Regions from separate parts of the Homo sapiens genome. Here region 1 is linked to region 2. Evidence: fine-mapped expression QTL. A gene starts in region 2. The other region holds a variant in brackets. All regions are shown on one strand. Distances are between the middles of the regions.

Region 1 (8,329 bases), 41 kb after region 2:
CTGTAGTCCCAGATACTCAGGAGGCTGAGGTGGGAGAACAGCTTCAGCCCAGGAGGTTGAGCCATGATCATGCGACTGTACTTCAGCCTGGGTAACAGAGAGAGACCCTGTCTCAAAAACACACACACGCACACACACACACGCAACAAAACAAAAAATAACTTGTAAGGGAGAATGCCCTGAGAAAAATAAATAAGAAGACAGGAAAAAAAAGTTTATGCTTTTTTATCCTCTGAGTTGTGAGTGAGGAGGCCACTCAAGTGTTTGGAATATCACCAACTTTTCTTGTGGAAAAAATTATTCTAGAAGCCTGTAGAGAGCCAAGTGGAAGGGAAAACATTAGCTGGAGAGCAGGAAAGAGAGGCACGCCGCTGTGGCCTTTCAGGAGGGTGGCCTGGCTATATTGGTGAAAATATGAAGCTGGTCCAAAGGACTGATAAACATTTTTACAAGCTTACTCAAATGTACTCTGAGCAACACAAAATCCAAACAACCCAGCAGATTGGGCAAAGCTTCAAAAATTCGATATCACCCCGTGGTAGTAAAGATGTTATAGGGAAACAGGCTGGGCACCTGTAATCGGGAGGCCGAGGTGGGTGGATCACCTGAGGTTAGGAGTTCAAGACCAGCCCCTGGCCAACATGGTGAGATGCCGTCTCTACTAAAAATACAAAAAAAAAAAAAAAAAAATCTGGCCATGGTGGTGGGTGCCTGTAATCCCAGCTACTTGGGAGGCTGAGGCAGGAGAATCGCCATTGCACTCCAGCCTGGGCGACAGAGCAAGACTCCATCTCAAAAAAAAAAAAAAAAAAAAGAGGAAGCGATATATAAAATGGCATATATTACAGGAACCAATTTGTGTAAATCTTCAACAGCACATAGATATGCAGATATATGCAAATCATTTCCTGGAAAGAAAGAATCAGAACCTGTTAATGAGGAATGCTTTGGAAAGAAGGCACCAAGAAAGGAAATATTATTTTTGGACATGTATTAATATATAATATGCATTTATGTAATATATGTGAGATGTAACATATAAATATATTTCTTGGCTGGGCACTGTGGTTCGTGCCTATAATCCCAGCAGTTTTGGAGGCCAAGGCAGAAAGATTTCTTGAGCCCAGGAGTTCAAGACCAGACTAGGCAACATCATTGAGACCCCATCACTACACACAAAAAATTGCTGGGTGTGGTAATGCACGCCTGTAGTCCCAGCTACCTGGGAGGCTGAGGTAGGAGGATTGCTTGAGCCCAGGAGGTCAAGGCTGCAGTGAGCTATGATTGTGCCATTACACTCTGGCCTGGGTGACAGAGCAAAAACCCTGTCTCTAAAAAAGAAAGAGGCTGAGCACAGTGGCTCACGTCTGTAATCCCAGCACTTTGGGAGGCCAAGGCAGGCAGATGACCTGAGGTCAGGAGATCAAGACCAGCCTGGAAAACGTGGTGAAAACCCATCTCTATTAAAAATACAAAAATTACCTGAGCATGTTGGTGCATGTCTGTAATCCCAGCTACTCAGGAGGCTGAGGCAGGAGAATCGCTGGAGCCCAGGAGGTGAGGCTGCCATGAGCCAAGTGCTGGGATTACACAGGTGTGAGCCACATCAAGGTTTGGGTGCAAGAGTACATCTGGTTATAGATTACAGAAGCATAATACCCTGACCCCATTAGATGTTATTTTATGTGTAGGAAAAGGTTTGAACCAGGTCCTTTTTTTTTTTTTTTTTTTTGAGATGGAGTCTCACTCTGTTGCCCAGGCTGGAGGGCAGTGGCACAATCTCGGCTCACTGCAAGCTCCGCCTCCTGGGTTCACGCCATTCTCCTGCCTCAGCCTCCTGAGTAGCTGGGACTACAGGCACCCGCCACCACGCCCAGCTAATTTTTGTATGTTTAGTCGAGATGGGGTTTCACCGTGTTAGCCAGGATGGTCTTGATCTCCCGACCTTGTGATCCGCCCACCTTGGCCTCCCAAAGTGCTGGGATTACAGGTGTGACCCACCCGTGCCCGGCCCAGGTCCTTTTTTTCTTTTTTCTTTTTTTTTTGGGGGACGGAGTCTTGCTCTATTGCCCAGGCTGGAGTGCAGTGGTGCGATCTCAGCTCACTGCAACCTCCGCCTCCTGGGTTCAAGCGGTTCTCCCGCCTCAGCCTCCTGAGTAGCTGGGATTACAGGCATGCACACCACCACACCCGGCTAATTTTGTATTTTTAGTAGAGACGGGGGTTTCTCCATATTGGTCAGGGTAGTCTCGAACTCCCGACCTCAGGTGATCCGCCTGCCTGGGCCTCCCAAAGTGCTGGGATTACAGGCATGAGCCACCGCACCTGGCACGCCTTTTTTTTTTTTTTTTTTTTTTTGAGACAGGGTCTTTCTCTGTCACCCAGGCTGGAGTGCAGTGGCACGATCACAGCTCACTGCAGCCTCAACCTCCCCAGGCTAAGGTGATGCCCTTGCCCTGGTCTCCCAAAATGCTGGGATCACAGGCATGAACCACCGTGCCCAGACTCATTTAAGGAATATAGTGACTCGGGCAAGGGACATGGTGTGCCCTGTGCTCTGTCCTGTTTTGTCTTCAAAGCCTTGTTCTGTAGAGCTGCGCAGACGTGTCTCACGTGTCTCAGAGTCAGGGGCTTTGTGAAATTACGCTGGAAAGCAGAATTGAGCAAACCCAGCTTAACATTAGTTACTTTTTCTCACATTTTCACAACAAAATATCACAGACTAGGAGGCTTAAACAGCACACATTTATTTTCTCAGTTCTGGAGGCTGGAAGTCCAAGATCACAGTGTCGGCAGGGTTGGTTTCTTCTGAGGTGGGGGCACCTTCTCCCTCGGTCCTCACGTGGCCTCCTCTGTGTGTGTCTATGTCCCAATCTCTTCTTCTAAGGACATCAGTCATATTGGATTAGGGCCCACCCTAATGACCTCATTTAAACTTTTTTTTTTTAATTATTTTTTTTAAAGGTGAAGTCTCACTCTGTAGTCCAGGCTGGAGTGCAGTGGTGCAATCTCAGCTAATGGCAACCTCCACCTCCTGGGTTCCAGTGATTCTCCTGCCTCAGCCTCCCGAGTAGCTGGGTCTACAGGCATGTGCCACCACACCTGGCTAATTTTTGTATTTTTGTATTTCTAGTAGAGACGGGGTTTCACCAAGTTGGCCAGGCTGGTCTCAAACTCCTGATCTCAAGTGGTTTGCCTGCCACGGCCTCCCAACGTGCTGGGATTACAGGCATAAGCCACCACACCTGGGTTTAATTTTCTCTCTAAAGGTCCTGTTTCTGCTGGGCACAGTGGATCACGTCTGTAATCCCAGCACATTGGGAGGCCAAGGTGGGCGGATCCCTTGAGGTCAGGAGTTCGAGACCAGCCTGGCCAACATAGCGAAACCCCTGTTGTCTACTACAAATACAAAAATTAGCCAGGTGTGGTGGCAGGCATCTGTAATCCCAGCTGCTCGGGAGGCTGAGGCATGGCAATCCCTTGAACCCGGGAGGCAGAGGTTGCCATGAACCAATACTGCGCCACTGAACTCCAGCCTGGGCGATGGAGTGAGACTCCTTTTTTTTTTTTGAGATGGAGTTTTGCTCTTGTTGCCCAGGCTGGAGTGCAGTGGCATGATCTTAGCTCACCGCAACCTCCACCTCCCGGGTTCAAGTGATTCTCCTGCCTCAGCTTCCCTAGTAGCTGGAATTACAGGCATGTGCCACCATGCCCAGCTAATTTTGTATTTTTAGTAGAGACGGGGTTTCTCCATGTTGGCCAGGCTAGTCTTGAACTCCAAACTCAGGTGATTCGCCTGTCTTGGCCTCCCAAAGTGCTAGGATTATAGGTGTGAGCCGCCGCACCCGGCCAAGACTTTGTAAAAAAAAATAAAAATAGGCCATGCGCGGTGGCTCACACCTGTAATCCCAGCACTTTGGGAGGCCGAGGTGGGAGGATCACTTGAGGTCAGGAGTTCGAGACGAGCCTGGCCAACATGATGATACCCCATCTCTACTAAAAATACAAAAATCAGCTGGGTGTGGCCAGGCATGGTGGCTCACGCCTGTAATCCCAGCACTTTGGGAGGCCAAGGTAGGTGGATCACCTGAGGTTGGGAGTTCGAGACCAGCCTGACCAACATGGAGAAACCCTGTCTCTCCTAAAAATACAAAATTAGCTGGGCGTGGTGGCGCATGCCTGTAATCCCAGCTACTCAGGAGGCTGAGGCAGGAGAATCGCTTGAACCCAGGAGGCAGAGGTTGTGGTGAGCCGAGATCCTGCCATTGCAGTCCAGCCTGGGCAACGAGAAGGTAACTCTGTTTCAAAAGAAAAAAAAAAAAAACAGCTGGGCGTGGTGGTGCGTGCCTGTAATCCCAGCTACTAAGGAGGCTGAGGCAGGAGAATCACTTGAACCCAGGAGGCGGAGGTTGCAGCGAACCAAGATTGCGCCATTGCACTCCAGCCTAGGCAACAGAGACTCCATCTCAAAAAAAAAAAAAAAGTAAATAGAGATAAAAAGAAAGAAATACTAAATTGATGGACATGCAGATGTGGTAACAGCCAAAAAACAGGGGCAGAAAGGAGACGTGGCAATGTCCTTACTGTGGTTTTTCTAGGGAAGTAGATGGGCACCTCAGCCTTACATGTTTATTTCATTTAAAAAACAGCCTTCC[A/G]CTATGAACTATGGTATGGTGGTTCCTCAAAACATTAAAAATAGAACCACCAAATGACCCAGCACTTCCACATCTGCTTTATACTTACAAGAATTGAAATCACTGGAGACCAGCCTGGGCAACAGAGTGAGACGCCATCTTTACAAAAAATAATCATATATTAAAAGGAAAAAAAAAGAAGCCAGGCACGGTGGCTTACACCTGTAATCCCAGCACTTTGGAAGGATGAGGAGGGACGATCATTGGAGCCCAGGAGTTTGAGACCAGCCTGGGCAACATAGCAAGAACTCATCTTTACTAAAAATAAAAATAAAAATTAGTTAGGCGTGATGGTACATACTTGTAGTCCCAGCTACTCCAGAGACTGAGGTTGGGGGATCTCTGGAGCGAAGGAGTTCGAGGCTGCAGTGAGCTATGATCGCATCACTGCAGTCCAGTCTGGGTGAAAGAACAAGACCCTGTCTCTAAAAAGAAAAGACAAGGTTTCTAATTCTTACACCAAAATACATCCTCAAGTTGTTCTTGGTGAAGGATCGTATACCTGAAAATGTGACCACTGAAAAAGTGGGATTAAAAACAAGGAAATTCAGGCCAGGCGCGGTGGTTCACACCTGTAATCCTAGCACTTTGGGAGGCTGAGGCAAGCGGATCACCCGAGGTCAGGAGTTCAAGACCAGCCTGGCCAACATGGTGAAACCCCATCTCTACTAAAAATACAAACATTAGCTGGGTGTGATGGCCCATGCCTGTAATCTCAGCTACTCAGGAGGCTGAGGCAAGAGAATCCCTTGAACCCAAAGATGGAGGTTGCAGTGAGCAGAGATCGCGCCACTGCACTGCAGCTTGGGTGACAGAGTGAGACTCCATCTCCAAAAAAAAAAAAAAAAAGGAATTCAACAAGTTGGTTAGATTCAAAAAACACAGTTTACAAAATCACAGCCAATACAAATGGAGCATCTCTCCATAGGCAAAGGACCATGGTTTAGAAATCAAGAAAACATCCCATTTATATTAGTAATGAAGGGACTAAATACTTAGGAATCAAGTTATGAAGTCTGCAAGATCTGGATGAAAAGCTGTGGACACAAAGGAATTCCTGAACAAACAGGACAAACCCTGTTCTTAGAAAGGAAGGCTTGTCATTAACATGTCAATTCTTCCAGAAGTCTGCAAAGTTAATGAAATCCCTATAAAACACCTGCTTGACTTTTAGCGGCTGTGCCAGTTCTAAAGTTTCAATCCAGTCATTCAACTCCTAGAAAAGTAGCCTAGACGTGGATACACATGTGTATACAAATCTATGTCCAGCCATCCCTCGGTATCCCCAGGGGATTGGTTCTAGGACCCCATGTGGTACCAAAATCAGAATGTGCTCAAATCCCTAATATAAAATGTCATAGGCCGGGCATGGTGGCTCACACCTGTAGTTCCAGCACTTTGGGAGGCTGAGGCGGGTGGATCATTTGAGGTCAGGAGTTCAAGACCAGCTTGACCAACATGGTGAAACCCCGTCTCTACTAAAAATACAAAAAAATTAGCCGGGCGTGGCGGCACATGCCTGTAATCTCAGTTACTTGGGAGGCTGAGGCAGGAGAATCACTTGAACCCGGGAAGCAGAGGTTGCAGTGAGCCAAGATTGTGCTACTGCACTCCAGCCTGGGCGACAGAGTGAGACTCTGTCTCAAATATAAAATAAAATAAAATAAAATAAAATGGCATAGTATTTGCATATACGCTACACATATTCTCCTGTGTACACTACTTTTTGACAGAGTCTTGCTTTGTCACCCAGGCTAGTGCAATCTCGGCTTAATGCAACCTCCACCTGCTGGGCTCAAGTGATCCTCCCATCTCAGCCTCTGGAGTAGCTGGGACTACAGGTGTGTGCCACCATGCTCAGCAAATTTTTGTTATTTTTTGTAGAGAAGGTGTTTCGCCATGTTGGCCAGGCTGGTCTTGAACTCCTGGCCTCAAGTGTTCCTCCTACCTTGGCCTCCCAAAGTGCTGGGATTACAGGCATGACCCACTGCGCCCGGCCTCTCCTGTGTACTTTATGTCGTCTCTAGATTATTTGTAATACCTGACATAACGTCTACACGTTGCTTTATTCTCATGGATTCCATGTAGTACTTGGTAAGTGGCAAATACAAGTTTTGCTTTTTGGAACTTTGTGGAATTTTTCTGAATATTTTAAATCTGTGGTTGGTTGAATGCCAGAGGTGGAACCCTTGGATACAAAGGCCTGACCTGCATCACAATTCAATCTACTGCTCTTGAGACTGTAGTTGTTTCCAAACAATATAAAGAAAAAAAGTTCAAATAAAGGCTTTCTAAGAGATTTATTGTATAACATAGTGAGTATAGTTAATATATTCTTGTCCAGGCGCAGTGGTTCATGCCTATAATCCCAGCATTTGGGGATGCCAAGGCAGGTAGATCGCTTGAGCCCAGGATTCTGAGACCAGCCTGGGCAACAAAGCGAGATCCTGTCTATAAAAAAATATAAAAATCAGCTACCAGGCATGGTAGCTCATGTCTGTAATCCCAGCACTTTGGGAGGCCGAGGCAGGCAGATCGCTTGAGCCCAGGAGTCTGAGACCAGCCTGGCCAACATGGCGAAACCCCATCTCTACTAAAAACATAGAAATTAGCCAGGCCTGGTGGCAGGCCTGTAATCCCAGCTACTCGGGAGACTGAGGCATGAGAATAGCTTGAACCCAGGAGGCAGAGGTTGCAGTGAGCCAAGATCGCACCACCGTACTCCAGCCTGGTGACAGAGTGAGATTCCGTCTCAAAAATAAATAAAAATAAAAATAATGATTAGCTGGGTATGGCGGCACATGCCTGTGGTCCCAGCTACTACAGAAGCTGAGGTGGGAGGATCACGTGAGGCCAGGAGTTTGAGACCACCCTGAGCAACACAGTGAGACCCCATCTCCACAAAAAAAATGTAAAACTTAGCTGGGCATGGTGGCATGCGCCTGTAGTTCCAGCTACTCAGGAGGCTGAGGCAGGAGGATCACTTAAGCCCAGGAGATCAAGGCTGCAGTAGAACATCGCTGCACTCCAGCCTGGGCAACAGAGCAAGATCCTGCCTCTAAAATATATATATATTTTTTTTAAAAAGGACAAAACTGATACACATATTAATGACATGGATGAATCCCAAAGGCATTTATGCTGAAAGATCTGAAACACAAGAGCCCATGCTGGCCTGAACAGGCAGGTGTCATCTATGGAGACAAAACTGGATGGGAGGCTGCCCAGGGACTGGGAAGGGGGAGATCAAGTGGGAAGAGGCACAAGGTGACCTGAGGTGACAGAGACATTCTCTATCTTGATAAGGATATAGGCTACAGTGCTATGTTCACTTCTCGAAATTTAAGCTGAACATTTAGGACTCGCATATTTCATATTCTACCCCAATTTTCAAAAATAGAGGAACAAGAGAGATTCCTAGGTAAGACAACCTTCGAGGTGCAAGACAGTTTATTTTTTTTTCGAGACAGTCTCGCTTTGTTGCCCAGGCTGGAGTGTGGTGGTGTGATCGTGGCTCACTGCAGCCGCCGCCTCCCAGGTTCAAGCAATTCTGCCTCAATCTCCCAAGTAGCTGGGATTACAGGCATGTACCACACCTGGCTGATTTTTGTATTTATACTAGAGATGGGGTTTCA
Region 2 (8,329 bases):
AGACCCCGTCTCTACACAAATAATAAAATTAGCTGACATGATGGTGCACACCTATCGTCACAGCTACTTGGGAGGCTGAGGCAGGAGGATCGCTCGAGCCCAGGAATTCAAGGCTGCAGTGAGCTATGATGATGACACGGCACTCCAGTCTGGGTGGCAGAGCAAGACTCTGTCTCAAAAAAAAAAAAAAAAAAAAAAAGGCCAGGCGCAGTAGCTCACGCTTGTAATCCCAGCACTTTGGGAGGCTGAGGCAGGCAGATCATGAGGTCAGGAGATCAAGACCATCCTGGTTAACACGGTGAAACCCCGTCTCTACTAAAAATACAAAAAATTAACTGGGCGTGGTGGTGGGCGCCTGTAGTTCCAGCTACTTGGGAGGCTGAGGCAGGAGAATGGCATGAACCCGGGAGGCGGATCTTGCAGTGAGCCGAGATCGCACCACTGCACTCCAGCCTGGGCGACAGAGCGAGACTCCATCTCAAAAACAAAAAAAAGGAAGAAGAATAAGAGGAGGAGGAGGAGGAAGAGAAGGAGGAGGAGGGAGGAGGAGGAAGGAGGAGGAGGAAGGAGAAGGACAAAGAGAAGAAGAAGACAGCAACAGAAAATGAGAGACATGATTAATCCAGCATGCTTAATAGTTTAGTAGTAGATTTTTCCATGGTGTCCTTCCCAAAAGGTTTCACCAACGGATGCTGTCTCTAATGATTTGGGAGATTTCTCATTTCCCTACAGCTTCTCCAGCTCTGAGCATTCCCGATCAATTTTTCATTTGACTCAACTGGAGTGGGAAATTGACTAGATTGTGAAAAGCATGCACATGCTCCAATGGTCTCCATCTCCTCCACAATATTTTTTTTCTTTTCTTTTTTTTTTTTTTTTTGAGATGGAGTTTTGCTCTTGTTGCCCAGGCTGGAGTACAATGGCACGATCTCGGCTCACCGCAACCTCCGCCTCCTGGGTTCAAGCAATTCTCCTGCCTCAGCCTCCCGAGTAGCTAGGATTACAGGCATGCGCCACCATGCCTGGCTAATTTTGTATTTTTAGTAGAGACAGGGTTTCTCCATGTTGGTCAGGCTGGTCTGGAACTCCCGACCTCAGGTGATCCCCACCTTGGGCTCTCAGCCTCCCAAGGTGCTGGGATTACAGGCGTGAGCCACCGTGCCCAGCAATTTTTTTTTTTTTTTGAGATGGAGTCTCACTCTATTGCCCAGGCTGGAGTGTAGTTGTGCGATCTCGGCTCACGGCAACCTCTGCCTCCCGGGTTCAAGTGATTCCCCCACCTCAGCCTCCCGAGTAGCTGGGACTACAGGCACACACCACCATGCCTGGCTATTTTTTGTATTTTTAGTAGACAGGATTTTGCCATGTTGGCCAGGCTGGTTTCGAACTCTTGGCCTCAAGTGATCTGCCCTCCTGGGCCTCCCAAAGTGCTGGGATTACAGGTGTGAGCCACTGCACCCGGCCTTCCTCCATAATTGAACACAGTCGCCCAGCTTAAGCCTCCAAGGGTCCAGTTCCAGGTCAAGATTTGCTGCTTTTTTTGTTTTGTTTTGTTTTGTTTCGTTTTGGTTTTGAGACAGAGTCTTGCTCTGTCACCCAGGCTGGAGTGCAGTGGCATAATCTTGGCTCACTGCAACCTCTGCCTCCTGGGTTCAAGTGATTTTCCTGCCTCAGCCTCCCAAATAGCTGGGATTACAGGTACCCGCCACCACGCCCAGCTAATTTTTGTATTTTTAGTAGAGATGAGGTTTCCATGTTAGCCAGGCTGGTCTCGAATTCCTGACCTCAGGTGATCCACCTACTTTGGTCTCGTAAAGTGCTGGGGTTACAAGAGTGAGCCACCGCGCCTGGCTGATGGGGTCTCACTATGTTGCCCAGCATGGCCTCGAAATCCTGGCCTCAAGTGATCCTCCTGCCTTGGCTTCCCAAGTGCCGAGATTACAGGCATGAGCCACTGTGCCCAGTCAATGAGCTTTTAATGTACATAATGTGGCTGAAGTGATGTGGGACTTTCAGGCTAGATCATAAAAAGATACAACTTCCACCTGGCTCTCAGCTCTTGGAAGGTGCTCGGGAGGCCAGCTCCCATGCTGGGAGTACACTCATGCCACTCAAGTATACTGGGAGGAATCGAGGCATCCCGCCAATCATAGCACCCATCTGCATGCCCTGAGAGTGAGCCACCTTGGAAGCAGATTCGCCAGCCCCCGTCAAACCTTCAGATGACTGAAGCCCTGACCAACTCCTTAACTGCAACCTTCTGAGAGGCCCTGAGCCAGAACAGCCCAGCAGCAAAGCCATTTCTCAAGTCCTAAGCTACAAAGACCACATGAAATCATAAGGATGGACCAGGTGCAGTGACTCACACCTGAAATCCCAGCATTTTGGGAGGCCAAGGCAACAGGATCACTTAAGCCCAGGGGTTCAAGACCAGCCTGGGCAACATAGTGAGACCCCCCCGCCCCCAGCTCTACAAAAAAGTATAAAAATTAGCCGGGAGTGGTGGCACATGCATGTAGTCCCAACTACTCGGGAGGCTGAGGCAGGAGAATTGCCTGAACCCGGGAGGCAGAGGTTGCAGCGAGCCGAGATCGTGCCACTGCACTGCAACCTGGGTGACAGAGCAAGACTCTGTCTCAAAACAAAAACAAAACCCAAACAAAACAACAACAAAATAACAAACAAATTAGCCGGATGTGGTGGCACATACCTGCAGTCCCAGCTACTCAGAAGGCCAAGGCCGGAGGATTGCTTGAGCTCAGGAGGTTGAGGCTGCAGCGGAGCTATGATTGTGCCACTGCACGCCAGCCTGGGTGACAGAGTGAGACCCCGTCTCTTAAAACAAATTTAAAAAAATGCTAGCTCTACGAGGGCAGGGATCTTTGTTTTGTTTGCTGTCATGTCCACAGTGCCTGGAACAGCATTGGGAACAGAGTACACGCTCTATGTGGTTGCCACGGTGATTATAACCTAACAGACCTTTGGTCTGCATATTCTGCGCTAAAAAAAAAAATCAAAAAACAAAAAACCTACCAGATCTGATTTATGTCAGGGCTAGCTCAGACTCTTACCTGTTTCCTGCCCACTCAGTGCCCATCTCGGCCAGTGAATGGGACATAGCTATGACCTCCCTCTGCACTGGGCAAATAGATTAGTAACTGGCAACTATGACAGGCGATCCACTCCAAACCTCGCCACTTCCCTCAGGATAAAATCCCAGGTCTTCTGTGCAGTTTCCAGCCCCCATCCTGCCTAGGATTCCACCATTCAGCCACAAGGAATCATGAACTGCTTGTAGTTTGCAAATACAGTAGTCTCCAGAGTGGAGTACATACACCCTATAAACAAAGCTTTGGGGTTCAACTGGAAAAACTTTAGAATATCTAGATTTGGGGGGTTTTATTGTTTGTTTTTTAGTCTTTTAAAAATAACTTTTTCCTTTTCTTTTTTCTTTTTTTAAAGACAAGGTCTTGCTATGTTGCCCAGGCTGGTTTTGAACTCCTGACCTCCAGTGATTCTCCCACCTTGACCTCCCAAAGTGCTAGCATTACAGGTGTGAACCATCATGCCCAGCTCCATTTATCTATCAATATTTTATATAACAGTTAACAGAATATATTGATATAATTGTATTTGTATATAATTTATAAATAATATCCATCTTTGAGGCCAGGAGTTTGAGACCAGCCTGGGCAACATAGTGAGACCCCGTCTCTACAAAAAAAATAGAAAATTAACCAGGCATAGTGGCATATGCCAGTAGTCCCAGCTACTTAGCAGGCTGAGGCAGGAGGATCGTTTGAGCCCAGGAGTTAGAGGCTGCAGTGAGCCACCATCAAACCACTGCACTCCAGCCTGGGCAACAGAGCAAGATCTTGTCTCAAAAAATAAATAAATGAATAAATATCCATCTGGGGGTGTAACTTTAACACTTTTACCTATAGGGGTGTGCAATGGAGAAAAAAATTTGGAGTCGTTGAACACAATGCTATTTTGCTCCTCAGAGAGTATCCGGCAGTCTCTGGAGACGTTTTTGGTAGTCACAACAGGGAGAGTAGGGAACCACTGGCATCTAGTGGGTGGAGGCCAGGGATGGTGTTAAATGTCCCCCAATACACAGGACAGTCCCCCACACAAAGAACTAGGCCGCCCAAAGTGTCAAGAGTGCTGGGCTTGAGAAGCCATTGCCCAAAAACCCCAGACTTAGTCTTGCTTTGGGGGCTCTGCACGGCTGCCTCATCTCCCCACTCTATTCCTCCCCTAGCTAAGACCTCCAATTTCAGTGACTCTACAAAGCATCCCCTCCTCCAATGAAGTTGCCATCTCTGTGTCCCCAGGCTGGGCCAGAGCCCCACCACCTAAGGGCTCCCTGATGTGCCCTGTACTGGGTTAGAATTGTCCGTCCCACGGGGTTCTTAACCATTGCAGATTCCCTGGATCCCTGAGACAGCCGGATTCTACCGGGCTACTAGAGACCAAGAATCTGTATTTTTCTCAAGCACCGCTCCCCCCAACCACACACACACTGCCTGCCCCTATCAAGGGCACACAGCAGGTGGCCCAGTGACTAGTTGAACGCCTACTGCAAGCCAGGCGCTATTACGCGATCCACTCGGGAATCTTGGCACATACTCCACTCCATGGTGTAGACACCAGGATTCTCCCCATTTCACAGAGGGGTAAACTGAGGTTGAGAGAGGTGACCGTAGCTAGGACAGAGACTCAGGGCAGGAAAAGGGCCCAGGTCCTCATGAGCGCCAGATTCCCGGGGAAGGAGGGAGAACAGAGAGGAGGGTGATGAACTGGGGGAGCGCGCGCTGGGTGGGGGGGCGCGGGGCCTCGCCGCGGCCTTCTGATGCGGCCCCGCCCCCACGAGGGACGTGAAGACGCGGACCCCGCGCAGCGTGGGGACATGTGACCGACTGCAGAGGCCGCGCCGCCTCCCCCGTCCGAGGTCTGCGCGCTCCGCCGCAGGGTGCAGACCCGGGGCGCCCGCCTGGGTTTGGGGCGCAAGAGCAGAGGCGGAGCCAGGGCGGAGCCAGCGCGCCGGGTCCCCCCTGAATCGAAAGCGAAACAGGGGCCGGGGAGGAAGGGCGGAGCCGGCCCCGAGGCACCGCCCCCTGCCCTGCGCGGCTGCTGGACCGACGGGCGCACCCAGGTAGGGGGGCGGCTGAGCCGCGCAGTGCGGACCCTCGCGGGGAACTGCGCCGCCGCCACCATGTCTCAGGAAGGTGTGGAGGTAAGCGATGGCTACGGCTGGGCCGGGGTCAGCCGCGACAGACCCCGAGGAGCGGCCGGGAGGCGCGGAGGGGGCTTCGCAGTTCCTGGGGACCCCCATCCTAGAACCCCAGATCCTTACCCCTGCCTGGCGCTCGCCCCCCTTGAAAAGGAAAGTGACTCCCACGTTTCCCCAGAGCGAAATGAGGCCTCCCCGAGGAAAAGCGGGGGCTGCAGGGTCAAAGGTCAGAGGCCAGAGATAACCTGGCCGCCCCCCCACACCTTAGGCTGGGACGCTCGCCCCAGTCCGCGCCTTCCCCCAACGCCCTGTGGGGACTTTGGCTTTTTCCAGGAAATGCCGTAAAGGGATGAAAGGCGGGGGGGGGGCGGCGGAGGCCAAAACCAAGGGTCAAGTTCGGGCCGGGAGAACGGTGCCTAGAGATGGGGGAGGGATGATCCCGTTTCCCCTTCCCCCACCGGAACCCCCCTGTCTCCATCCCAGCTGGAGAAGAGCGTCCGGCGCCTCCGGGAGAAGTTTCATGGGAAGGTATCCTCCAAGAAGGCGGGGGCTCTGATGAGGAAATTCGGCAGCGACCACACGGGAGTGGGGCGCTCCATCGTGTACGGTGAGGCTGCAGGGGTCCCGGGCCTGGTGCGGGGACCGCGCGTGGGAGCGCCGAGGGGGCGTGGTCTAGGGAGAGGCGTTGAGATCACCTCCCCCGGAGGTCCCAGCCTTGGGGAGGCTCTGCGTCGCGGCTCTGGGTGGCCTGGAACTCCCACAGACCCTTCAAGGGCCCTTCCCTTATATGCACTCTCCCCCGCAGGGGTAAAGCAAAAAGATGGCCAAGAACTAAGTAACGATCTGGATGCCCAGGTAACCTATCCCCTCCCCTCGCAAAGGACCGGGTCACGGGAGGGAGAGCAAGAGGGGGGACCCGACCCGTTCATGGTGACTGACCCCCCTCTGAAACAGGAGGGACCAGGCATTGTCGGTCCATAACTCATCACCCAATCTCACTTTTTCACCTCTCCATCATTTGTCCGGCCAGGGAGCCTGCAAACAGTAGGCGCTCATTATGTGCTGATTGTATTCAATGGGGGAGAGAGCCATGAAACTAAGCAATGAAAGGAGCCAGGATTATTGCCATCATAGCGGGGGCGCAGAGGTCAGAGAAGGCTTACTGGAGGAGGAGGTACCAAGTCTTAAAGGATGGGGAGGAGTGAGCCCTGGGAGGGGAAAGGGAAAGAAAGGCAGGGGTCTTGGGGTGGGGGAGGGAATGGCATAAGCAAAGGCTGGGAGGTGGGGAAGGGTTGTTAGTGGCAGTCTCTAGAAAGGCTAGGATGAGCAGAGGATTGGGGAGGAGAGAGAGGCAGGGGAATGGAACCCTTGTGTTGAATGAATGAATGAATGAATGAATGAATGAATGAATGAATGGCTTTGAAGCACAGGTGCATCATGGCTACTTTGCTTCTTTGACAGCTTTGGTGATGGGAACGCTGTGGATTTAGCCTGCCTGAAAGGCTTAGTGTAGGGCTGTTAAAGAGTATAATAGGCCAGGCGCGGTGGCTCACGCCTGCAATCCCAACATTTTGGGAGGCCGAGGCGGGCGGATCACCTGAGGTCGGGAGTTTGAGACCAGCCTGACCAACATGGAGAAACCCGTCTCTACTAAAAAATACAAAATTAGCTGGGCATGGTGGCGCATGCCTGTAATCCCAGCTACTCGGGAGGCTGAGGCAGGAGAATCACTTGAACCCAGGAGGCGGAGGTTGCAGTGAGCTGAGATCACACCATTGCACTCCAGCCTGGGCAACAAGAGCGAAACTCTGTCTCAAAAAAAAAAAAAAAAAAAAAATGCCGGGCGCGGTGGCTCACGCCTGTAATCCCAGCACTTTGGGAGGCCAAGGCGGGCGGATCATGAGGTCAGGAGATCGAGACCATCCTGGCTAACATGGTGAAACCCCATCTATACTAAAAATACGAAAAAAAAAATTAGCCAGTTGTGCTGGCAGGCCCCTGTAGTCCCAGCTACTCAGGAGGCTGAGGCAGGAGAATGGCGTGAACCCGGGAGGCGGAGCTTGCAGTGAGCCGAGATCGCACCACTGCACTCCAGCCTGGGCAACAGAGCGATTCTCCGTCTCAAACAAACAAAAACAAACAAAACCAGAGTATAACAAAACATGTATCATAGTCTACATTTATACATATAAAAGTATGATAAAAATGATAGCAGAGGGGCCAGGTGTGGTGGCTCACGCCTGTAATTCCAGCACTTTGGGAGGTTGAGGCGGGCAGATCACTTGAGGTCAGGAGTTCGAGATTAGCCTGGCCAACACGGTGAAACCCCTTCTCTATTAAAAATACAAAAAATTAGCTGGGCGTGGCAGTGCATGCTTGTAATCCCAGCTACTTGGCAGGCTAAGGCAGAAGAATCACTTGAACCTGGGAGGCAGAGGTTGCAGTCAGCCAAGATTGTGCCATTGCACTCTAGCCTGGGAGACAAGAGCGAAACTCCGTCTCAAAAATATAATAATAATAATAATAATAATAATAATAATAATAATATTAGCAGAGAGTAGCATTCATTGAGTACTTCCCACATGGCAAGATTCCAGGAATTTATTTATTTCATCACTGCAGTGACCCCAGGAGACAGGTCCTATTATTTATCCCCATTTCACAGACAAAGAAACTGAGGCCGAAGTCACTTGCCAGCAAGCAGGGGCAGCTGCGATTTGAACCCTGGCCACCTGGAGTCAGAGCCTGGGCTCTAACATGCCTGTCAGTGGGAACCCAGGGGGCAGGGAGTGGCTTGCCCAAGTCCCCACAGCTGGAAGTGATACAGCTGGGATTTGAACCCACATCTCTCTCCCACTTAGCCGAGCACAACGTGGCCTCAAAGGGGCGATATGTCACAACATCAACAAGCATGTGGCATTTGCAGGCAGGAAGTGAGTATGGGGGTCAGGCTAGCCTCACTCAGGCAAGCCCTCCCCTAAGCCTCAGTTTCCCCATCTGAGCAATAAGGTAACAGGTGTGCCCACCTCTCAGGGCTGCTATGAGGACAACTGAGGCCACACACCTGGCTCTCAATAAGTGAGTGGTGCTCTG

The links. PIP is the estimated chance that this variant, and not a neighbour inherited with it, causes the effect.
Region 1: its variant is fine-mapped to the expression of SHFL in whole blood (TOPMed, PIP above 0.99).

Annotation. Positions count from the first base shown.
Region 1 is chr19:10,121,854-10,130,182 of GRCh38, forward strand. No RefSeq gene overlaps it. Among named protein-coding and RNA genes, the nearest start is that of EIF3G, 6.1 kb to the left of the region's middle. The variant A/G (reference allele first, on the strand shown) is at 4,656.
Region 2 is chr19:10,081,210-10,089,538 of GRCh38, forward strand. SHFL (shiftless antiviral inhibitor of ribosomal frameshifting) reads left to right here and starts at 5,108. Exons shown (of 8, transcript NM_018381.4): 1 at 5,108-5,239; 2 at 5,720-5,843; 3 at 6,042-6,091. The coding sequence starts at 5,219. RefSeq lists silencers at 4,807-5,026, 5,097-5,376.